7 linked regions of the Homo sapiens genome follow. The protein of the gene in region 1 purifies or fractionates together with the protein of each later gene. This does not show direct contact. Each region holds a gene or a part of one and is shown in the gene's direction. Other genes may lie near its edges.

Region 1 (3,505 bases):
CCCTCCCAATTCTTCTGCATTAATGCCTGAGAACTATTGACATGCTGCATTCAGTTCAACAAATATTCAGTTGGCAAACATTTATTAGACAAAAAAAATTAGGAAACTCTGAGCTAGTATGTCTATGCCAGAATTTAACTTAAAGTCTTTTTTTGGCTTCTGATTTTTAGATTTTCCTTTAACTGTAATATGATGTAGTAAAAAGATTATTAGCTAGGGAATCAAGAAACCATATTGTACACATGAAATCACTGAGGCCCATAATGGTTCATTTACTTCCTGGTGGTCACTCAGAGATTTAATGGCAAAGGTTGAACTAGACAAAGGGCCCAGAGTCACCCAACCTTTAGGTAAGAGACAAAAGGCGCCAATGAGAAGATTCACTCCTGAGGCAACGCCCTGCCTCAGCCAAGGAGCTCTTACCTGCCCTCAGATAGGCATGCCCGTACTTCAAGACACTCTTGGGCAGCCTAGACCTAGCAAGGGGCCCACGTGCCCATCTTGGTCACCTAATGGGGCCAGACTGTGGTGTGCCCTGATCCCTGAGGTGGTAGCACTGAAGAAGCTGGACCCAGGAGGACAGAGGGCAGCCGTGCAGGCAGCATCCATGTGATCAGCATCACAAGAGCAGAGTAGGAGGTGGGATCTGGGGTCAGAAACCAAGACAGCGGAGCAGGGTCAGGGCAAGTGCCAGACTAAAATATGTGGGCAAATTTGAGGTCAAGGCAGGGATGAGTTGAAAGGAAGACAAGCAAGAGCTAGAGGGGAACTGCTGAGGATTTGGCCTCAAGGATGGAGTCCCACTGTGTGACCTCACAGTCAGGGGAGGTACCTGCCCCAAGCCGTGCCTGCCTTTTTAAATCTGAAAGGTGCTGTGTGCTGGGCTGCCTTCTGACAGCAGGAGAGTAGGAGCACAGCCTGAGAGGCGGCAGGCCAGAGCAGGAGGAACCTGAAAATGGAAATTTAGGAAACAATGGAAAAAACAATTATAGCAACAAAAAACCATTTTCTTTAAACTCTCACCATCCTCTAAGAGGAAGTCTGACTATTCATCCTGCCTGCATAACCCTGCTGAAACCCATCAACCCACACCCACTGATCACCTGACAGTGTCTGACTGCCCGGCTTCCTCTCATCCCACCACCTCAATTTCCAGAGCCCACCAAGGCATCACTTGACTTTCAAGTTCTGCCTGGACAGACTGCTCAGCTCCCTACCCGCCCCAGTTCACGTTCAGGTTCTTGAAATCAACTTTAGTTTCCTCCATGCCTACATCTATGCTGATCCCCTGCAAAGGCACCTGGTGACACACAAGAGCCAGAACCCAAAGGAGCTCCTCCACAGGATCCTCCCAGGGCTTAGCCACCAGGGAATTTTGTTGATGATCCCCAAGCTTCACTGCCCCATGCAAGTCTCCATTATCTCAAGGTTATCCCTGTTCAGGATCACTACTCTCCTGATTCTTGGCCTCCTAGTCCAAACTCATGGCTCCAGGGTCATGATGAGTAAGAGTTCTGGAAAAGTCTACAACCTCCCTTGAACCAGAGGTACCTTGAATCAGATGGAGGGTGACTTTCCAAGAATGCCTGGGCCGGTTCAAGTCTTCACTATAATGTTTGCCTTATGTAAAACCCATCACCTTGTTGTCCTGCACAACTTTCTTGAGTGAAGCACCTCTGATACTCAGATGACATTCTAATTGCTCACGAGACCTGGACCCCTGGGCCAGGAAAGCCCATGTGGTGGTGACAGCAGTGCTTCCAAATCTCACCCACAGGAGACAAAAATAGGAGTTCCATGGCATCCAGACAAGGTGTCCACATGCTGCTGGAGAGTCTTGGGTGGTCACAGAGTACAAAGTTCAAGGGCAAAGATTGTTCAGTGGGTCCCAAGATTTGACAAGTGCTACTGGTGGTCCCACCCTTGCCTCTCTACATTGATTCCATGTCCCACTTCCTCTCACACTATGCTGATAACGATCTAACCTGAGAAATTAAAAGTATTCACACAGCCTCTGGCCAAAGCTACAGGAAGACCCTGGCCCAGGCAAACTCTGTTCCTGCCCCACAGCTGTCATTTCACCTGCCCTACCCCATGGGAGCATGTACCACTGGTATCAAGTCTTCCTGCTGGGCCAAGAGGCACTGCCTCAAAGAGGCCCAGCATCCCCAGATAGCAATGTCCCACCACTGCAGTCAGGAGCAACTGGGCAAACCCAAAGACTCAGCCCCCCCATCCAGAAAGACCATCCCATTTTCCATCGCCTAAGTGCCAGACAGCCCAAACTGCTGTGTAGACAGCTACCAGGAAAACTGGAGCAATGAGAGACATCTGAGGTCACCCCAGCTAAGCTCAGAAGGCCACAGAGCTTAACTGCCTTCTTGACTGTGGCCCATCAAAAGGAGCCCGACACATCTAGTAGATGGCTTAAATAAAAAATACTGAGGTTACCAAATGCTGGCAAACATGTGGGGACACTGGATCTCTCCTACATTGCCTGTAGGAATGTAAAATGGTACAGCCACTCTAGGAAACTGTTTGGCAGTTTCTTATAAAAGTTAAACATATACTTACCACGTGATCCAGCAATCCTACTCATGGGTATTTACACAAGAGAAATGAAAACTTATGTTCACGCAATAAACTTTACATGAACATTTATAGCAGCTTTATTTGTAATACCTAAAAACTGGAAAATAGCCAAATGTTTTTCAGCAAGTTAGTGGGTAACACACTGGTACATCCACACCTTGAAATACTATTCAGCAATAAAAAGGCATGTGCTCTTTACATACAATTCAAATGGATCACAAGGGCATTATGCTGAAAGCCAATCTCAAAGAGTTATATGCTACATGATTCCATTTAGAGAACGTTCTTGGACTGACAAAATCACAGTGATAGGCCATGCACGGTGGCTCATGCTTGTAATCCCAGCACTTTGGGAGGCTGAGGCAGGAGTGCCCAGGAGTTCGAGACCAGCCAGGGTAACACAGGGAGACCCGCATCTCTACAAAAATTTACAAAACTAGCGGGATATGTGGGCGTGCACCTGTGGTCTCAGCTACTTGAGAGGCTGAGATGGGAAGACTGCTTGAGCCCAGGAGTTTGAGGCTGCAGTAAGCCATGATTTTGCCATTGCACCCCCAGCCTGGGTGACAGAGCGAGACCCTGTCTCAACAAGCAAAAAAAAAAAAAAATTACAGTGATAGAGAACAGATCAGTGGTTGTCAGGATGGGTGTGATTATCAGAGGAGGAGCACAGGGAACTGTGGTGGTGACTATTCTCTATTCTGATGGTGATGGTCATCACTCCAGCCTGCACATGTGATACGTTGCATAGAACTGTAGACATACAGGTACACACACACACACACAGAGTGCATGTAAAAACTGGTAAAATCACATAAGACTGTATCTGCGTTTATTTGAACTATACCAGCATCTGTTTCTTGGTTTAGCCCAAGTACTACAGCGATGTAAGACAACACTGGGGGAAGGTGGA
Region 2 (3,505 bases), on another chromosome or scaffold:
AATTTGACGCCAGCCTGGGCAACATAGCAAGAACCTATCTCTAAAAATAAAGAAAGAAATTGATATGTGTGATTATAAAACTGTAATATTTTTCACAGAAATTTTGGAAAATACAAGTTTCAAATTATACACCAGGCATGGTGGCTCCTGCCTGTAATCCCAGCACTTTGGGAGGCCGAGTCAGGCGGATCACCTGAGGTCAGGAGTTCAAGACCAGCCTGGCCAACATGGTGAAACCCCGTCTCTACTAAAAATACAAAAATTAGCTGGGCGTGGTGGTGGGCACCTGTAATCCCATCTACTCCGGAGGCTGAGGCAGGAGAATTGCTTGAACCCGGGAGGCAGAGGTTGCAGTGAGCTGAGATCGCTCCACTGCACTCCAACCTGGGTGACAGAGCGAGATTCCATCTCGGAAAAAAAAAAAATTACAAAATTGCCCGTAAATCTACTATTTGTAACCACTGTTAACTATAGTAGCTCATTTTAGTATATAGTCACAGCCTGCCTTTGTGTATATTAATGGGATGATACTGTATGTGTTCAGCAGTCTCTTAACAAGAATTAAACATTTCCCAATAATATTAAACATTCTTTAATTTAATTTGAATTTTTTTGAGATGAGATCTGACAGGCAGAGAGTAGTGGCACTAACATAGCTCAATGTGGCCTCCAATTTCTGGGTTCAATTGATTGTCCTGCCTCAGCCTCCAAAGTGGCTGGGACTACAGGTGTGAGACACTGCCCAGCCCATTTTCTTAAATTTTTTGTAGATACAGGATCTCACTTTGTTGCCCAGCTTTTCTTGAACTCCTGGCTCAAGTGATCTTCCCACTTCCGCCTCCCAAAGCACTGGAATTACAGGTGTGAGCCACTGCACCCAATCTAATTTAATTTTAATGGCTGCATAGAATAACGTATAAATGAGAGATTGTTATGTACCAAGACAGTGTTTGAATCTGGGGGTGTAATGTTGATCACTTCAAACTTAGCCTTTTTTCTGAGACTGAAGTGTGATATATAAATAATTTCATAATACAGGGCTACCATAATTTATCTGTATTATGGAACCTTTAGGCTTTTTAATGGTTTTCTTTATTAGAAAAATATTTTAATGAATATTCTTAGGTATTAATATTTGTATGTATTTCTAATGATGTTCCTAAGATAACTTCCTGAAAGGAGAACTATGAGGTCAAAGGATATAGCTCTTGAAGTTTGTTGATATATATTATAAAATTCCTGCAGGAAATGTAAAAAAATATAATCCCAGCAGAATGTGAGAAGGCCTGCTTTCCTGTGCTCTCACCAACCTACATATTACCTGTCAACTTGATAGGTAAAAAATTTGTCTTATATTTAAAATTTGTATGTCTTTGAATACTAGTGAGGTTGAGGATTTATTCCTTTGCAAAACATGTATTTTTTGTCATTTGCTCATTTTGGTGGTGTATTGATTCCTTGTATACCTTTTTTTTTTTTTTTTTTTTTTTTTGAGACAGGGTCTTACCCTGTCACCCAGGCTGAAGTGCAGTGGCGCGATCTTGGCTCACTGCAGTCTCTTCCATCCGGGCTCAAGTGATTCTCCCATCTCAGCCTCCTGAGCAGTAGCTGGAACTGCAGGAGTGTGCCACCATGCCTGGCCAATTTTTTTGAATTTTTGTAGAGACAGGGTTTTGCCATGATGCCCAGGCTGGTCTCAAATTCCTGGACTCAGGCGATCTGCCTGCCTTGGGCTCCCAAAGTGCTGGGATTACAGATGTGAGCCACCACTACAGGGCCGTTGTTTCTTTTTAATAATGGCTTTATTGAGACATAGTTCACTTGCTATAGAATTCCCCCCTTAACCATCCTCAAGCCCCTTTTAGCCACTAATCTACTTTTTGTCTCTGGATTTACCTATTCTTGATGTGTTACAGAAATGGAACCATGCAATATGTTTTCTTTCACTTAGTGTAATGTTTTCAATAGGTTTCATCTGTTGTAGCATGTATTATTTTATCATTTCTTTTTATTGCCAAATATTTTATTTTATGAATATACCACATTTTATTTATCCATTCATTAATTGGTGGACATTTGGGTTGTGTCTACTTTTTGGATGAATAATGCTGTTGAACATTCACATACAGGTTTTTGTGTAGATATGTGTTTTCCATTCTCTTGGGTATATACCTAGCAGTGGAATGACTGAGTTGCATGGCACCTCCATATTTAACATTTTGAGGAACTGCCAAACTGTTTTTGAAAAACAATTTCAAAGTGGCTTCACTATTTTACAATTTCACCAGCAAGTTTGAGGCTTTCTATTTCTCCACATCCTCACTAATGGTTATTACCTGTCCTTTAGTTTTAGCCATTCTGATAGGTATGAAAGTATCATTGTAGTTTTGATTTGTGTCTCCCTAATAACCATCTTTTCATGTGCTTGTTGACTATTTGTATATGTTTGGAGAAATGTCTGTTCATATCCTTTGCCTGTTTTTTAATTGGGTTGTTTATCTTTCGATTGTTGAGTTATAAGTGTATTTTATATATTCTGGACACCAGTCCCAGTCCCTTCTCAGATATATGATTTGTAAACATTTTCTTCCATTCTTTGGGTTGTCCTCTTACTTTCTTGATGATGTCCTTTTTTTTTTTTTTTTTTGAGACGGAGTCTCACTCTGTCACCCAGGCTGGAGTGCAGTGGCTCGATCTCAGCTCACTGCAAGCTCCGCCTCCTGGGTTCACAGCATTCTCCTGCCTCAGCCTCCCGAGTAGCTAGAACTACAGGCACCCGCCACCACGCCTGGCTAATTTTTTGTATTTTTAGTAGAGATGGGGTTTTCACCGTGTTAGCCAGGATGGTCTCGATCTCCTGACCTTGTGATCTGCCTGCCTCAGCCTCCCAAAATGCTGGGATTAGAGGCGTGAGCCTTTTAAGCACAGAAGTTTTAATTTTGATGAAGTCCAATTTATGTAAGTCATGTGCTGCATAATGATGTTGTGGTCAGTGATAAACACATACACAACAGTGGTCCCAAGAGATTATAATACTGTATTTTCACTGCACTTTTTCTATGTTTAGATATGTTTAAATACACAAGTACAATTTTGTTACAGTTGTTACAGTATTTAACAGTAACATGCTACACAGGTTTGTAGCCAAGGAGCAATTGACTATACCATGTAGTCTAGGTGTGTAGTAGGCTGTACCACCTAGGATTGTGTAAATACATAATGATGTTTGTACATGACAAAATCACCTAGCCATGTCTTTGTCAAAAAATATTGTTAAGTGGCGTATGACAGTATTTTTCCTTTTGTTTCTTGTGCTTTTGGTGTCATATGTAAGAAATCATTGTCTTATTCAAGGTCATAAAAGATTCACTCTTGTGTTTCCTCCTAAAAGTTTTATAGTTTTAGCTCTTACATTTAGATCTATGACCTATTGTTTGTTAATTATCATACAGTTGTTCCTCAGTATCTGTTTGGGATTGGTTCCAGGAACGCTTGTAAATTCATA
Region 3 (2,671 bases), on another chromosome or scaffold:
GTCTCGAACTCCTGACCTCACAGTCCGCCCACCTTGGCCTCCCAAAGTGCTGGGATTATAGGAATGAGCCACTGCGCTTGGCTGGGACTTACGTTTCTAACACTGCATAATTTTAATTCTTTTTTTTTTTTTTTTTTTTTTTTTTGAGATGGAGTCTCACTCTGTCATGCAGGCTGGAGTGCAATGGCGTGATCTTGGCTCACTGCAACCTCCGCCTCCCAGGATCAAGTGATTCTCCCACCTCAGCCTCTGGGTAGCTGGGATTATAGGCACCTGCTATTGTGCCCAGCTAATTTTTATATTTTTGTAGAGACGGGGTTTCACCATGTTGGCCAGGCTGGTCTTGAACTCCTGACCTCAGGTGATCCGCCTGCCTCAGCCTCCTAAAGTGCTAGGATTACAGACATGAGCCACCACGCCCAGCCACATTTTTTAAAGAATCAGCTAAGTCAAATAAACCATCCACAATGGAATTCTGTGTAGCTGTAAAATAGAAAAAAGATTTGCTGACATAAAATGATCTTTAGAATATATTAAGTGAAAAAATGTAAAGTGTGTATAAGGTGTGTATATGTTGTCTTTTGTATAAGAAAGGTGAGCTGGGCATGGTGGCTCACGCCTGTAGTCACTTTGGGAGATAGAGGTGAGCAGATAACCTGAGGTCAGGAGTTCGAGACCAACCTGGCCAACATGGTGAAACCCTGACTCTACTAAAAATACAAAAAATTAGCTGGGCATAGTGGTGCATGCCTGTAATCCCAGCTACTTAGGAGGCTGAGGCAGGGAGAATCACTTGAACCCGGGAGGCGGAGATTTCAGTGAACTGAGATCACACCATTGCACTCCAGCCTGGGTGACAGAGCGTGACTCTGTCTCAAAAAAGAAAAAAAAAAAGAAAGGTGGGGAAGAGAACATACGCTGTAAAGCATGTGTATGCAATCTCTTATGAAAGAAAGATAGGGAAGGTGACATTTGTATTGCATCAAAAAAATGGGAAAAAACTAATATGGTTTCTACAAGGTAGATTGGAAAAAGGTGGCAGCAAGACTTCTCTGTATTCCTTTATTAATATTTTGACTTGTTTGTTTTTTGAGATAGGGTCTTGCTGTGTTGCCCAGGCTGGAGTACAGTGGTGCCATCATGGTTCACAGTAGCCTTGAACTCCTGGGCTCAAGTAATCCTCTACCTCAGCCTTCCAAGTAGCTAGGACTACAGGCAGGCACGCGTGCCACCAGGCCAGGCTAATATTTGTATTTTTTGTAGAGATGGGGTCTCACTATGCTGCCCAGGCTGATCTTGAACTCCTGGGTTCAAGCGATCTCTTGCCTTGGGCTCCCAAAGTGCTGGGATTACAGGCATGAGCAACCATGCCTGGCTGATATTTTGACTTTTGAATGATGTAAGCTTACCTCTTCAAAAATATTCCTTTTTTTTTTTTTTTTGAGATGGAATCTCGCTCTCTCGCCCAGGTTGGAGTGCAGTGGCACAATCTCGGCTCACTGCAACCTCTGCCTCCCGGGCGATTCTCCTGCCTCAGCCTTCTGGGTAGCTGGGATTACAGGTGCGTGCCACCACGCCCGGCTAATTTTTGTATTTTTAGTAGAAACAGGGTTTCACCATGTTGGTCAGGCTGCTCTCAAACTCCTGACCTTGTGATCTGCCCGCCTCGGCCTCCCAGTGCTTACGATTACAAGCGTGATCCACTGTGCCCGGCCTCAATTTTTAAAGTTAGTTTAATCTCCGAGAAATCTTCCTAGACTTCTCCAAGCTGGGTTAGAAGCTCCTGTAATGCACACCGTATTTGCATGACAGTATGTCACACTTAGCTGTCTGTGGCACTAGGAATTGAGACCAGGGGGTGAGTCTATTGGTCTTGTAACCTATAATGTAATTGACAAGAGCAGGAGCCCAGTATTTGTTAAATTAATGCTTCTGTATTTCTATAGAAAGCAGAACCAGAAAGAAGAATGGGGAGAAGGAAGTATTCCCGCCTAAGGAGGCACCCCGAAAGGGGAAGCGAGGCCGGAGGCCCAGCAAACCCCGACTGATTCCTAGGCAGACGTCCGGGGGCCCCATCTGCCCTGACTGCGGCTGTACCTTCCCTGATCATCAGGCCCTGGAGAGCCACAAGTGCGCCCAGAATCTAAAAAAGCCTTACCCTTGCCCAGACTGTGGGCGCCGCTTTTCCTATCCATCCCTGCTGGTCAGTCACCGGCGGGCACACTCCGGCGAGTGCCCCTATGTTTGTGACCAGTGTGGCAAACGTTTCTCCCAGCGCAAGAACCTCTCCCAGCACCAGGTCATCCATACAGGGGAGAAGCCCTATCACTGCCCTGACTGTGGTCGCTGCTTCCGGAGGAGCCGGTCCTTGGCCAATCACCGGACCACACACACAGGTGAAAAACCCCACCAGTGCCCTAGCTGTGGACGTCGCTTCGCCTACCCCTCCCTGCTAGCCATCCACCAGCGTACACACACGGGAGAGAAGCCCTACACTTGCCTCGAGTGCAACCGCCGCTTCCGCCAGCGCACGGCCCTCGTCATCCACCAGCGCATCCACACGGGCGAGAAGCCCTACCCGTGCCCGGACTGCGAGCGGCGCTTCTCCTCCTCCTCTCGCCTGGTCAGTCACCGGCGTGTGCACTCTGGGGAGCGTCCCTATGCCTGCGAG
Region 4 (3,505 bases), on another chromosome or scaffold:
AAGTAAATAAATAAAATAGAAAATTAAGTACTCAATAAATGTTCACTGCTATATTCTCTTTTTTCAGTTTTTGCTTTTATTTTTGTTTTTCTGTCACACTGGGCTGCTGCTATCCTGTTTCAGAACTATAGTGAAAATGGGTAGACTAGCTGCTCTAACAAGGGATATGTGCTTTTCCTAGAGAGCAGTCTTTGAGATGTTTGACCAGTGGCTTCCTTCCAGTGCCCCCTTGACCTGCGCCATGGGCTCACACTCCTATGCCATTTAAAAACTGTTTTATGTTTAATTTTCTATTTCCATCTGATACTTGAATCCATGTCATTTTTTTTTAACCCATTATCTTCTGTTTCCCTTCTCACTTGAATGAAGTTGAGAGAGCAGAAGCTTGGTTCATCTTCTGGCTCTCAGTCTTCCCCCACCCCAACTCCCAACTTTGCTTTTGAACTACAACCTTTTTTTTTTTTTTGAGACGGAGTTTCCATCTTGTTGCCCAGGCTGGAGTGCAATGGCACAATCTTGGCTGACCCCAACCTCTGCCTCCGGGTTCAAGCAATTCTCCTGCCTCAGCCTCCCGAGTAGCTGGGATTACAGGCATGTGCCACCACGCCCGGCTAATTTTGTTTTTGTGTGTGCGTGTTTTGTTTTGTTTTGTTTTGAGACAGAGTTTCGCTCTTGTTGCCCAGGCTGGAGTGCAGTGGCGCGATCTTGGCTCACCAAAACCTCCGCCTCCCACGCTCAAGCGATTCTCCTGCCTCAGCCTCCCGAGTAGCTGGGATTACAGGCATGTGCCACCACGCCCAGCTAATTTTGTATTTTTAGTAGAGATGGGGTTTCTTCATGTTGGTCAGGCTAGTCTCGACCTCCTGACCTCAGGTGATCCACCCACCTTGGCCTCCCAAAGTGCTGGGATCACAGGCGTGAGCCACCGCAACCAGGCGAACTACAACTTCGGATGTGATTGTTCTTTTGTTCTGTAGCTCAAGGCTAGACACGTAGGGAAAATGACGCCATTTGCTGGAGGATTGGATTGTCTTTGTTCAGGCTGCAAAACAGCTTTTGCATCAAAGTTGAGGTCTAGGAGAAGGCCACCTCCTTGAGCCCTTCTTGCTAGCTAGAGTCCATGTTCCAGCATGCCAGGACTCTCCAGTGATTTGTTTTTATCTTCCCTCCTCCTGAGCCTTCATCTTTGAGAGAGAACAAAGTGGAAATAGTGCCAAACTCTGTGTTATAAAGTATAGTGGTTTTGCCGCTTTAGCCTTGGTCGACTCACTTTACATTTCTGAGTTGCAGTTTTTCCATCTGTAAAATGGGAATAATAACTCATGAAGTTTGACTCTACAGACTATTATTGTAAGATAAGGATGCAAAAAGCTTGATAAACTAAAGCACTGTTTAGGTGTAAGGCAGTATTATTACTCTCCTCACTTCTTTATCCAGGCTGGACCAGGCTTGCAGGGAACTGGTGCCAGACTCTGTATTTTCATTTTTACTTTCCCAGGATATTCACCTATATAAGGGGCAGAACCCAGTGAGGCTCCTGACCCCATAATATCTTGTGATGGACTTCCATGGTCTTGCCATCCAGGAAGGTTCAGCAACATAGCTAAACTATTGATTTGCCAACTCTCAGCTCCTCCCAGCCATGGTTGTTATAGCTCGGTAATGTGGGTCTGAGAAGCTTTGTTGCCTTCTCTCTACTCCATTGGAGATGCCAAGGAAGAATTGTTATTTCATCTTCTCTTAAAACTTTGACTTGTCTCCTGTAGATGCTTGGCCAGGCTGTCAGAACATCCTGGGAGTTAATGAGAGAAAAATACATATAGCTCCCACTAAGTGCCTATAATGTGTCAGGCACTATAGTTAGTGCTTATCTTGTTTAAACCTCATAGCATCCTTTGAAATAGGTACTTATTATTTCCAGTTTACTGAAAAGAAAACTGAGGTTCAAAAAAGTTAAATCCCTTGTTCTAAGTCACATAGTGAGTTAAGTTGCAGAGCTAGAATTTGAACTTAATTCTATCTTATTCCAAAATTTGTTGTTCTAATGACCATACCATGAGGCCTCCTGTTACCATACAGAAAGAGGGGCCATGTGCTACATAGGAAAACTCAGGAGATTTCCATTCATATGATCTACATGAAGATCCCAACTGCGCCTATGCGATCTGGGACAAGTGGCTTTCAACTTGTCCAAGCCTTAGATACTATCTCATTAACTTGTCACCATAGGTGTTTTTTTTGGGGAGAGGGGGAGATTATTTATTTATTTATTTATTTATTTATTTATTTATTTATTTTGAGACAGGGTCTTGCTCAGTTGCCCAGCCTGGAGTGCAGTGGCAGGATTATGGCTCACTGCAACTTCCAGCTCTTGGGCTCAAGCGATCCTCCCACCTCAGCTTCCTGAGTAGCTGGGACTACAGGCCCGCGTAACCACACCCGGCCAATTTTTGTATTTTTAGTAGAGACAGGGTTTCACCATGTTGGCCAGGATGGTCTCGATCTCCTGACCTCATGATCCACCTGCCTTGGCCTCCCAGAGTGCTGGGATTACAGGCATGAGCCACCGCGCCCAGCCAGTAGATGTTATTCTTATCTCCAGTTTACATTTGAAGGGAACAGGCCTCAGTGAGTTCAGATGACTTGCCCACGGATGCAGAATAGTAAATGGCAGAGCCAGAACTCAGGTCCAGGTCTATCTAACACCTGCTTCAGTGTTCTTTCCACCATTTTTCACAGCCAGCTTCTAAGACCTGGTGTATCATTCAGCTAGATTTATAGCTCTGAGGCTGCTGGTTGGAAGCTGGCATCCTTTTCTGCTCTCTTTCTCCTCCCATACTTTCTCCCTCTTCTTAGAAACCTTACAGAGGCAATATAGGTATTTGAAATTCAAAGAAGAGATTTATGCCGTGCTTAAAATCTGCTCATACTGCCCCATTAGACACCTGGGAATCTGCCTCTCGTCTTTTGTATGGGTTTGTACTGTTACTTTGGTAGCATGATGTGGTGGGTATAGTTTTGGGAATGTTCTTTCTCAGCTCTTTTCTTTATGAGTATAATCTTGTGAGGTGGCTGTAAAGTTAGAGATGATGAATATTCAAGGGTAGCAAGTACAGGCTTATTATTTGATGGCAGTTATTTCCCCTGGCACCAGGATCTAATAGAAACCAGAATAGCAGTCAGGAGTTCTAAATCTTTTACTCCTATTCTTTGACCTTGGATATGTGAGTCACTGTTTCTAGATAGACTGGCTAGTCTTTAGGGGCGCCTTTCAGCTTTAATGTCCTGCACTTTAAAAAATGAAAGTAATAAGATACTTGTTTAAAAAAAATCAAATTAGACAGAAGTATTTGAAGGAAAAAGTGAAAGACCCATATCCTTTCCCCCATTCAGTTCATTCCCAATGTGTAACACTTATTACCAGTTTGATGTATCCTTTTCAGTGTTCTCTGTGTATACTAAATATACACAAGTATGTGTAACATACACAGTTTATATCATGTGC
Region 5 (2,724 bases), on another chromosome or scaffold:
GCTAGGACTTTTAGGTCCCCTCGTGCCTGACATGCAAACCAGATGTGATTTTGGAATTCTACTCCCTTAGGCAGGCAAGCCCTGTTTTTTATTTCTGCTTAAGCTTTTTAGTACAGTGAGAGCGGGCATCTGGGGCCACAGCTTTCTTTGGCACGTTTGTTATGTTCTGTTTACCCTGTTTGTGCCTCGGGCATTGCAGATCAGCCGGCAGTCCATTGATGCACTCAAAGACTGGTTCAGAGATGAAATGCAGAAGAGTGACTGGCAGCTTATTGTGGAGCTGAAGAAAGTATTTGAAATCATCTAATTTTTTCACATGGAGCAGGAACTGGAGTAAATGCAATACTGTGTTGTAATATCCCAACAAAAATCAGACAAAAAATGGAACAGACGTATTTGGACACTGATGGACTTAAGTATGGAAGGAAGAAAAATAGGTGTATAAAATGTTTTCCATGAGAAACCAAGAAACTTACACTGGTTTGACAGTGGTCAGTTACATGTCCCCACAGTTCCAATGTGCCTGTTCACTCACCTCTCCCTTCCCCAACCCTTCTCTACTTGGCTGCTGTTTTAAAGTTTGCCCTTCCCCAAATTTGGATTTTTATTACAGATCTAAAGCTCTTTCGATTTTATACTGATTAAATCAGTACTGCAGTATTTGATTAACCAAGCTTCTGCAGATTTTGTGATTCTTGGGACTTTTTTGACGTAAGAAATACTTCTTTATTTATGCATATTCTTCCCACAGTGATTTTTCCAGCATTCTTCTGCCATATGCCTTTAGGGCTTTTATAAAATAGAAAATTAGGCATTCTGATATTTCTTTAGCTGCTTTGTGTGAAACCATGGTGTAAAAGCACAGCTGGCTGCTTTTTACTGCTTGTGTAGTCACGAGTCCATTGTAATCATCACAATTCTAAACCAAACTACCAATAAAGAAAACAGACATCCACCAGTAAGCAAGCTCTGTTAGGCTTCCATGTTAGTGTAGCTTCTCTCCCACAAGTTGTCCTCCTAGGACAAGAATTATCTTACAAACTAAACTATCATCACACTACCTTGTATGCCAGCACCTGGTAACAGTAGAGATTTTTATACATTAATCTTGATCTGTTTTAATCTTGATCTGTTTTAGTAGAGATTTTTATACATTAATCTTGATCTGTTTTAATCTTGATCTGTTTTGTCCTAGAAAATTCCATCATACACACATTTCCTGATATTTGGGCTTAGTGCTTCTAAATTGTTGCAGACACAAAACTTAATGATTCATTCGTAGTAGTAATCTGTAGCTAGTTTTAGGGTTTTGCTGAAGTCAGTGTGGGGTGTTTGTTTGAGGAAAAAGTTCCAAATATCCACTAGCATAGAATTTTAAACTATTTTTATTTTAAAGTTATGGCATAACATATAACATAAAAATATTTTATATACGTTTGAAAAATCTATACCGTTCTTTTTTATCATCAAAGTTTCTCAATGGCCAGTAGAAGCAAAAAGACAACACCACCTCTGATCTACGGGACATAATGTTCCCAGGAAAAAAATCTTCAAGTGGGTGTGAGGGTGTTTCTAATTCAAAATATGTAGATTTCTCCGCATGGAAGAAGTAGTAAAGATTTTCTTAACATGCTCCTGTGTTCATGCTTGGAGACAAGAATAAGATGGTTTAGAAGCTTTACCCTTTCTTGGAACAAGTAGAATCCCGGTCTGAGACCTCTCAGGAATTTCAGAGCTTAGCAGTCTGGCCTGGAGGTTTTTCAGCCTTTTAGTATAATAAACAGTAGTTGCTTCCTAGAGTTGAGTTTTTAAGGATTCACAAAAAGGAGCCTGTACAAAATATACATACAGTTCTTTATTAAACAACTGTAAACACTTCACTGTAAAAATCCATAAAACTTTATAAACAAACATTTTGTAAATAGAATCTATGCTACAGTAAAATAATTAACACAATTATTTACATGCAATACTGACAAATTTGGCACTTTTTGAAAAGAAATGTACAAAACACTTGCTTTAAAAGAAATTTAAAATTATAAAAACTCCGAGCATTACTATCATGCACTTTGCAAATACCTCACAAGCACTTATGGCACAGCTATCAGAGAGCATCAGGCTCTCTGGTAATATTTATGTAACTTTTAATGTGCTTCCATAAGTTTGTTGTAAAACCACCTGGACATTGTCAAGAATAAAGTCAAATGCCATATTCCAAACCGATTCCACCGATTGCTGCATCAGCCTAAAGGTGGGGAGAGAAGAAATGTCATTAGGAATTAGGAAAGGTCCTTAAGACTAATTATTCCTTTTTATATATAAAAATTGACTTTGGCAAAAAAAAAAAAAAGTCCTGGCCAGGTGCGGTGTGGCTCATGCCTGTAATCCCAGCACTTTGGGAGGCCGAGGAGGGCGGATCACCTGAGGTCAGGAGTTTGAGACCAGCCTGGCCAACATGGTAAAACCCCGTCTCTACAAAAAATAGAAAAATTAGGTGGGCATGGTGGCACATGCCTATAATCCCAGCTACCCGGGAGGCTGAGGCAGGAGAGTCACTGGAACCCAGGAGGCAGAGGCTGCAGTAAGCCAAGATCCTGCCACTGCACTCCAGCCTGGGCGACAGAGTGAGACTCCATCTCAAAAAAAATAAAATCCTAGAACACTCAAATTTTTTTTTATTTTGTTTTGAGACAAGCTGTCGATCAGGCTGGAGCCATGCAGTGG
Region 6 (3,505 bases), on another chromosome or scaffold:
GGGAGAAACAGTGGAATATTTTTATGACATTTTTAGGAAATCACCTGGCTTGGTTGGTAGTCCCACACTGACTTTCCTTATGATAATTCTACAGATGGAGGTGACACGAGCAGTGATGAGGATAAAGAAGAACATGAAACTCCTGTGGAAGTAGAACTCATGACTCAGGTTGACCAAGAGGATATCACTCTTCAGAGTGGCAGAGATGAACTAAATGAGGAGCTCATTCAGGAAGAAAGCTCTGAAGACGAAGGAGAATATGAAGAGGTTAGAAAAGATCAGGATTCTGTTGGTGAAATGAAGGATGAAGGGGAAGAGACATTAAATTATCCTGATACTACCATTGACTTGTCTCACCTTCAACCCCAAAGGTAATTAAAAAATAAAATTTTACATATTATTGTGTAAGCTGAGAATGATGATGAGGTAATCCTTACAAAGATAATACCAAGATTGACATCAGTACTTTTACACTCCATTGTCTTAATACTTTTTCAACATTTGATTGGGTCTCTCTGCAAAGAAATTCCCAGGACCAGGGTAGAAAAATACAGTGCATATAGAGTGGCCAAACTAGATCCAAATAGAAACAAGTAAATGGTTATAAATGCTAAAAACATAACAAAGGCAATTCCATCAAAGAAATGTGTTTTAGTCTATATAATGTTTTGCAGATCATCAGGTGAATAGTCCATAGTTATAAATGCATAATTAACTTAGGGGTAATTCAGAACAGTCTAGGAGTCAGACAGACCAGTATTGGGTCTTAGGGTGCGTCCTTGGGAAAATTACTTTGTGCTTAAGCTTCAGTTTCCTTCTTGGTGAAAACAGAATGGTATCCCTTTCATAGGGATTTGGTGAAGGTTTCATGCGTGTATACCATCTGGCAGTGCCTGACACACAGTAAGTTTTCAATACACGTCACCTATTTAAAAATGTATATGGAAGTGTGGAGAGAGGAGCAATTTGGTTGTATGTTTTTCTCACTTCACCAAATTTGAAAATTTGTTGGATTGCCAGTACTTAAGAGTATGATATGGGAATGTTTTGGGACTTTGTAAATGCATGTCTTTTACAGGCTAGTAGAGACTCCCTTGTGTTTATTTTCATAGGTCCATCCAGAAATTGGCTTCAAAAGAGGAATCTTCTAATTCTGTAAGCTATTTTCAGTTTTATGAAGAACATCCGATTCTCAGTGAATAATTTTCTACTTTTCAAAAAAGTTAATAGTGATATTTGCATTTGCCTGTTTTTTTGTTTTAATAGAGTGACAGTAAATCACAGAGCCGGAGACATTTGTCAGCCAAGGAAAGAAGGTAAACACATCTGTGTTAATTAACTAAAAAGCATGTTTTTCTTTTTTTTTTAATTGATAGCTCAGCTACCACAGATTACTTAGCTGTTTAAAGACTTCCTTCATTAAATTTACCAAGATTTAGCACAAATGTTTAGTTTTTAATATTAAGCTCTAATACATTTTTCTGTTTAAGGGCCCTAATCTATAACTATAATCAATGAAATAGACCTAGTAGAGTAAGTCCTCACTTAACATTTTCCTTTTTTTTTTTTTTTTTTTTTTTTTTGAAACAGGGTCTCGCTTTGTTGCCCAGGCTAGAGTGCTATGGCGCAGTCATGGCTCACTGCAGCCTCAAACTCCCAGGCTCAGGCAGTCTCCTGCTTCAGCCTCCTGAGTAGCTGGGACTACAGGCGTGTGCCACTACAAAAATTTTTATAGTTTTTGTAGAGACAGGGTTTCATCATGTTGCCCAGGCTGGTCTTAAACCCCTGGGCTCAAGTGATCCTCCCACCTTGGCTGCCCAAAGTGCTGGGATTACAGACATGAGCCATTGTGCCCGGCCTTCACTTAACATTTTCTTTTTTTTTGAGATGGAGTCTCGCTCTGTCGCCCAGGCTGGAGTGCAGTGGCATGATCTCGGCTCACTGCAAGCCCCACCTCCCGGGTTCACGCCGTTCTCCTGCCTCAGCCTCCCGAGTAGCTGGGACTAGAGGCGCCCACCACCATGCCCGGCTAATTTTTTGTATTTTTAGTAGAGACGGGGTTTCACCGTGTTAGCCAGGATAGTCTCGATCTTCTGACCTCGTGATCACCCGCTTTGGCCTCCGAAAGTGCTGGGATTATAGGCATAAGCCACCGCGCCTGGCCCACTTAACATTTTCAATAGGTTCTTGGAAACTTGGACTTAAGGGAAACAGTGTGTAATGAAACCAGTTTTGCCATGGGCTAATTGATATAAACAAGAGTTAAGTTCCTCTGGCATATTTTTGGTCACAAAACCATCACCAAGCTTCTAAATAAAGACTGAAAACTCTTCTAATATTAAACGTTAAAATAAATGTAAACTGTATGTATATTTAAGAAAGATGAATGAAAGCGAGCAAGATAATTATTTACCCAATTTTTGGTAAATCAATGAGTGATGGCAGTTGTAGTGGTAGTGGGTTAAATCAAGGATTATTTGCAAAGTGAAAACTATAGAGTACCTCCTACTACCATGAGGTTCAAAAACAAAAATGTGGCACATTCATTAAACACTTTCATACTACATTGTTGATTGTTATACATTTGTATGACTATAGTTTATGAATTTTTGACAATCATTTTTATTAAGTCATTCATTCATTCATTCATTCGTTTTTCAACCGCTTATTCCAGTTAAGGGTCATTGGTGGCTAGAGCCTATCCTGGCAGGTCAGGGCAAAAGGCCAGAACCAACCTAGAACAGGATGTCATTCTGTTGCAGGGCACACATACCTGCACTCATTCATGCTGGGATAATTTACACACACCAGTTAACCTGACATGCGCATTTTGGGATGTGAGAGAAAACCTGAGTACCTGGTGAAAACCCACAAAGACATGGGGAGAACATGTAAACTCTGCACAGATGGTAGCCGTGGCCAGGAATCAATTTTGTTCTCATCAAAGTTATAACACAATGATGTTGAATGAAATGATGTTATTTGAGGACTAGCTCTAATAAGACCTTTTATTACATAAACATGTACAATAATGATTTCAGTGTATTACATAGACTAGTTCTAGGGTGATATTGTCAGGAATAAATATGAATACCTGAAATTAGGAAAGTTTTATGTAAGGCAGAATAGTTGATTTTTTGTTTTTTGTTTTTTTTGAGACGGAGTCTCGCTCTGTGGCCCAGGCTGGAGCGCAGTGGCTGCGATCTCGGCTCACTGCAAGCTCTGCCTCCCAGATTCATGCTATTCTCCTGCCTTAGCCTCCCGAGTAGCTGGGACTACAGGCACCCACCACCACGCCCGGCTAATTTTGTTTTTGTATTTTTAGTAGAGATGGGGTTTCACCGTGTTAGGCAGGATTGTCTCGATCTTCTGACCTCGCGATCCACCCGCCTTGGCCTCCCAAAGTGCTGGATTACAGGTGTGAGCCACCGCGCCTGGCCGATTTTTTTTTTTTTTTTAATAGCAGGTCTCAGGAAGCAAGTAGAAGCAAGGGAAGGGCGGAAGG
Region 7 (3,505 bases), on another chromosome or scaffold:
TTAGGTGTTACTTATTTATTAAGTAACTGAAATTTAAAACATGGGTAGTGTCAAAAGTTATTTAACATACAAAATTGACAAATGTAATGTCATATTAAAAACCAAATAAGCTGTTTTCTAAAAATTTTATAAACTATTATGCAAACATTTTTATTTGCTCTATGCAGTTATTTTATGAAAGGGAAAGTATAAGTACCGAGTGACTGAAATACATGTTCTAGTTAGGCTTGTATTTCTTTAAAATATTTCTCTACAATAAATTTTCACTGTAGGTTATTTGAATAAGTATGTGGATAACAATGGTTCTTTTTTACTTTCTTCATTGTAACGTTCGGGAAAGGCTAACTTTGTTAGTAGCTCAGCAGGAAGTAAAGTGGAAGTGGTTAAAAATATTTCTCTTTGGGATAAGATTATTGATTGTTATTCTTACTCCACAAGGTTAGGTCCCTGAAAAGTATTTCAGAAAATGTCTTTCCTTGATCTTCTTATTCTGCACAGTGATGCAAATCTGATAGGAAAGTGACCTCAAGGGAATAGATCCGTTCTCTCCAATCTTGATGTCTTATGAGAACTGGCTGCCATTATCCAGCTGTGGCAGAGAGCAACAAATAGCTCAGCAGAGCACAGAATGGAGAAGTTTTACGCTCTTCTGAGTTTAGTTTTTAAATCCTTTTTTCTTAGTATGTTTGTAACCAGAAAATCAGGGTTTATTAAAAATCAGTACTGCTGTTTTAATTATTTAATCAAGAGAGGACTTTGAATTAAACTTTTGGCATGTTAAAATATGTTGATAACATTCTTGCTATTACCTTTTAAATACCTTTTATATTCTAACATAAAGATGGTTTAAATATTACAGAAATCCTTTGATGCTCTGAATTTTGTTACAATGTTAAAAATGGTATGGATTTCCAAAGCTAGTGCCATACAGCGGAAAGGCAGGTAATGTATATTTAATGTATATTCATTCAATTGCCTGTAAAATGGAAACGTTTTTATATGCATTACACATTTATCATATATTCCATGTTCAATAAAATAGTAGTTTTCATGTTAAAATTTTTATATTATTTTTGCAAAGCAAGCCATTTTGATACTTCCTTAAAAGTTGAATGTAGGTTATGTTAAAATTAAAAACTTTTGCCTAGTTAAATGTACATTCAGATGTAAGAAGCTTAAAAAACAAAACCAAAAATTCTAAACATATGCAATGTAGGACAAAGAGCTAATTTCCTTATTATATAAAGAAGCTCTTTGAAATCAACTAAAGGCCAATAATCCAGTTAAAATGGATAAAGGGCACAAATAGGCAATTTACCAAAATAAAAAATATGCATGTCCTACTAATACATTAACCTCACATATACTACCTAATATGTATCTAAATAAATGCAAATTAATGAGGTATTATTTTTTGAATCTCAGATGGGCATTGATGAAAATGTTTAACAGTATGTACAACATAGAGGAAAAACATGGGCCAATAGTCTTTCATATTTTACTGATGGGAGTATAGATTGGTGTGACTTCTTCAGAGTGCAATTTGAAACTATTTATCCAAATCTACTCTTTGACCATAGATTCCACTTGTCATAATTTATCCTGAGTATGCTTGCACACGTGTGCAAAGATGTATGTTTAAGACTGTTCTTTGAAGCATTGTTTATAATAATGTAAAGTCTGGGAACAGTGTGATGTCCATCAATACTGAAGTGATTAAATAAATTATAGCCACACAGTGGCTTTCTGGGTAGCTGTTAAAAGGAAAAATGTAGATCTGTGTGTTCTTATATGGAATGAGTTTTCAGGATGCATTGTTAATTGAAAGGATACAGAACATGCATCTAGTAGTCTTTTGTGGTAAGAAAAATATATGTGTGTTTGTGTATGTATTTTGACACAAATGCATCGAGAAGTCTGGGAGAAACATTAAAAAACAATGAATGATTGTTAACTCTGAGAAGGAGGATTTGTGGGGTTCTTGGAGTAAGGAGACAATTTTATTTTTTTTGTAATTTGGTTATTTTACTAAGTGTTTGGGTTACTTTTTAATTTTCAAAAGATAACATTAAAAAGTATCATTTTCAGTAAATATTTATCTTGCATTTTATTATAATTAGCAGGAAAACATGAAATGCTGACTTTCAAAGAATGCCTCATATACTGAAGACTCATGTGCATTATTTCTTTACTTTGTAACTTCATAGAATGCCCATGAGGGCTTTGTTGTTGTTATGTCAGTTGTTTTCTTATGACCAATAGTGGCTTGATACATTAAGCTGGATGTCCCTGCTATTAATAGTATATTATTGTGGGTAAGGCTGGGTGTAGTGGCTTATGCTTGTAATCCCAGCACTTTGGGAGCCTGAGGTGGAAGGATCACTTGAGTCTAAGAGTCTGAGACTAGCCTGGGCATCATAGTGAGACCTTGTCTCTACAAAAAATTAAAAAATCAGCTAGGTGTGGTGGCACAGGCCTGTGGGCCTAGCTACTTGGGAGGCTAAGGTGGGAGGATCATCTGATCCTGGGAGGTCGAGGCTGCAGCTGCCGTGAGCTGTGATCATACCACTCTACTCCAGCCGGAGCGACAGAGCCAGACACTGTCTCAAAAAAAATAAAATAACAAATAGTATATTATTGGAGATGAAGGCCAGAACTGCAAAAATTTTCATTGCCATTTTTCAACAAATGTTTATCAAAAGTCTTCCCTGTGCACATGTTACGGATAGTGATAAATAAACCATAGCCTGATAGGTAAAGCTGGAGGTAGGGCAAATGTTGCAGTCCATGTGGGAGTCCAGTAAATTAAGCAATTTTAATACAGTGTTATTTGTGCTACAACTGGATGTTTCCAGAGTTGTTAAGAATGAATCTGAGACAATTGTGAATAAAGGGGGAGGCATTTCTAAAAGGCAGAGGGAAAGTATAACCAGGTATACTTATTTGCCTAAAGGCAAGAGTGAATAGGGAGGATGTTTGGATAGAATTTAGTTTAGAGAATAGTGAAAAATGAGCTGAAAGTTGGGGACAAGTTTTTAAGGACCATTTTGAGTTTTCTCTCTTTTTTAAAAAAATAAACAGTGGGATGACATGAGTATAGTATTCTTTCAGCTCTCTGAAGAATGGATTGGCAGGAACAAAAATGATGGTAGGAGGACCCAGTAGGAGGCTTCTTCATTAATACTTTCCTATAATAAGGGAGAGATGAAAGTAGTCTGGATTGTTTTAGTGGTGGTGGAAATAAAAATAAATAGATAATTAATTCAAGAGATACTAAAGAAAGTAATGTTGGTGATTGATTGTGTATGTAGGGGGTGAGGGGTAAGGAAGAGAGTGGAGTTAAGGATGTCATCCAGGTTTCTGTCTTAAAAAATCGGACAGTAGTGCCATAGTCAGATAGGGAAAATTGGAAGAGTGTTTTCACTGGAGAGAATAATTAATTTTTGGTTATTTTGAGTTTGAGTTGCCTGTAGAAAATCGAAGTGGATTGGGAGGCTGAGGCGGG

What was found.
Region 2: the proteins of ZBTB38 (region 1) and MRPS35 purify together in Homo sapiens (affinity purification with mass spectrometry; 2 studies listed by BioGRID and IntAct, with this or other methods). This does not show direct contact.
Region 3: the proteins of ZBTB38 (region 1) and ZNF689 purify together in Homo sapiens (affinity purification with mass spectrometry; 3 studies listed by BioGRID and IntAct, with this or other methods). This does not show direct contact.
Region 4: the proteins of ZBTB38 (region 1) and ZCCHC17 purify together in Homo sapiens (affinity purification with mass spectrometry; 2 studies listed by BioGRID and IntAct, with this or other methods). This does not show direct contact.
Region 5: the proteins of ZBTB38 (region 1) and EIF5B purify together in Homo sapiens (affinity purification with mass spectrometry; 2 studies listed by BioGRID and IntAct, with this or other methods). This does not show direct contact.
Region 6: the proteins of ZBTB38 (region 1) and NEMF purify together in Homo sapiens (affinity purification with mass spectrometry; 2 studies listed by BioGRID and IntAct, with this or other methods). This does not show direct contact.
Region 7: the proteins of ZBTB38 (region 1) and YTHDC2 purify together in Homo sapiens (affinity purification with mass spectrometry; 3 studies listed by BioGRID and IntAct, with this or other methods). This does not show direct contact.

What each region holds. Positions count from the first base shown.
Region 1 is NC_000003.12:141,375,001-141,378,505, forward strand, and holds part of ZBTB38 (zinc finger and BTB domain-containing protein 38), read left to right. Parts: intron 1-3,505. UniProt on the Homo sapiens protein: Transcriptional regulator with bimodal DNA-binding specificity. Binds with a higher affinity to methylated CpG dinucleotides in the consensus sequence 5'-CGCG-3' but can also bind to E-box elements (5'-CACGTG-3').
Region 2 is NC_000012.12:27,724,332-27,727,836, forward strand, and holds part of MRPS35 (small ribosomal subunit protein mS35 isoform 1 precursor), read left to right. Parts: intron 1-1,245; coding exon of another isoform or gene 1,246-1,254; exon of another isoform or gene 1,255-3,505.
Region 3 is NC_000016.10:30,604,723-30,607,393, reverse strand, and holds part of ZNF689 (zinc finger protein 689), read left to right. Parts: intron 1-1,946; coding exon 1,947-2,671. UniProt on the Homo sapiens protein: May be involved in transcriptional regulation.
Region 4 is NC_000001.11:31,359,532-31,363,036, forward strand, and holds part of ZCCHC17 (zinc finger CCHC domain-containing protein 17), read left to right. Parts: intron 1-56; exon of another isoform or gene 57-1,266; coding exon of another isoform or gene 1,267-1,299; intron 1,300-3,505.
Region 5 is NC_000002.12:99,399,108-99,401,831, forward strand, and holds the end of EIF5B (eukaryotic translation initiation factor 5B), read left to right. Parts: intron 1-199; coding exon 200-307; 3' UTR 308-2,133; downstream 2,134-2,724. Other genes in the region: DNA repair protein REV1, read right to left, coding at 2,134-2,245. UniProt on the Homo sapiens protein: Plays a role in translation initiation.
Region 6 is NC_000014.9:49,797,286-49,800,790, reverse strand, and holds part of NEMF (ribosome quality control complex subunit NEMF), read left to right. Parts: intron 1-94; coding exon 95-371; intron 372-1,112; coding exon 1,113-1,155; intron 1,156-1,266; coding exon 1,267-1,316; intron 1,317-3,505. UniProt on the Homo sapiens protein: Key component of the ribosome quality control complex (RQC), a ribosome-associated complex that mediates the extraction of incompletely synthesized nascent chains from stalled ribosomes as well as their ubiquitin-mediated proteasomal degradation.
Region 7 is NC_000005.10:113,555,193-113,558,697, forward strand, and holds part of YTHDC2 (3'-5' RNA helicase YTHDC2), read left to right. Parts: intron 1-859; coding exon 860-942; intron 943-3,505. UniProt on the Homo sapiens protein: 3'-5' RNA helicase that plays a key role in the male and female germline by promoting transition from mitotic to meiotic divisions in stem cells.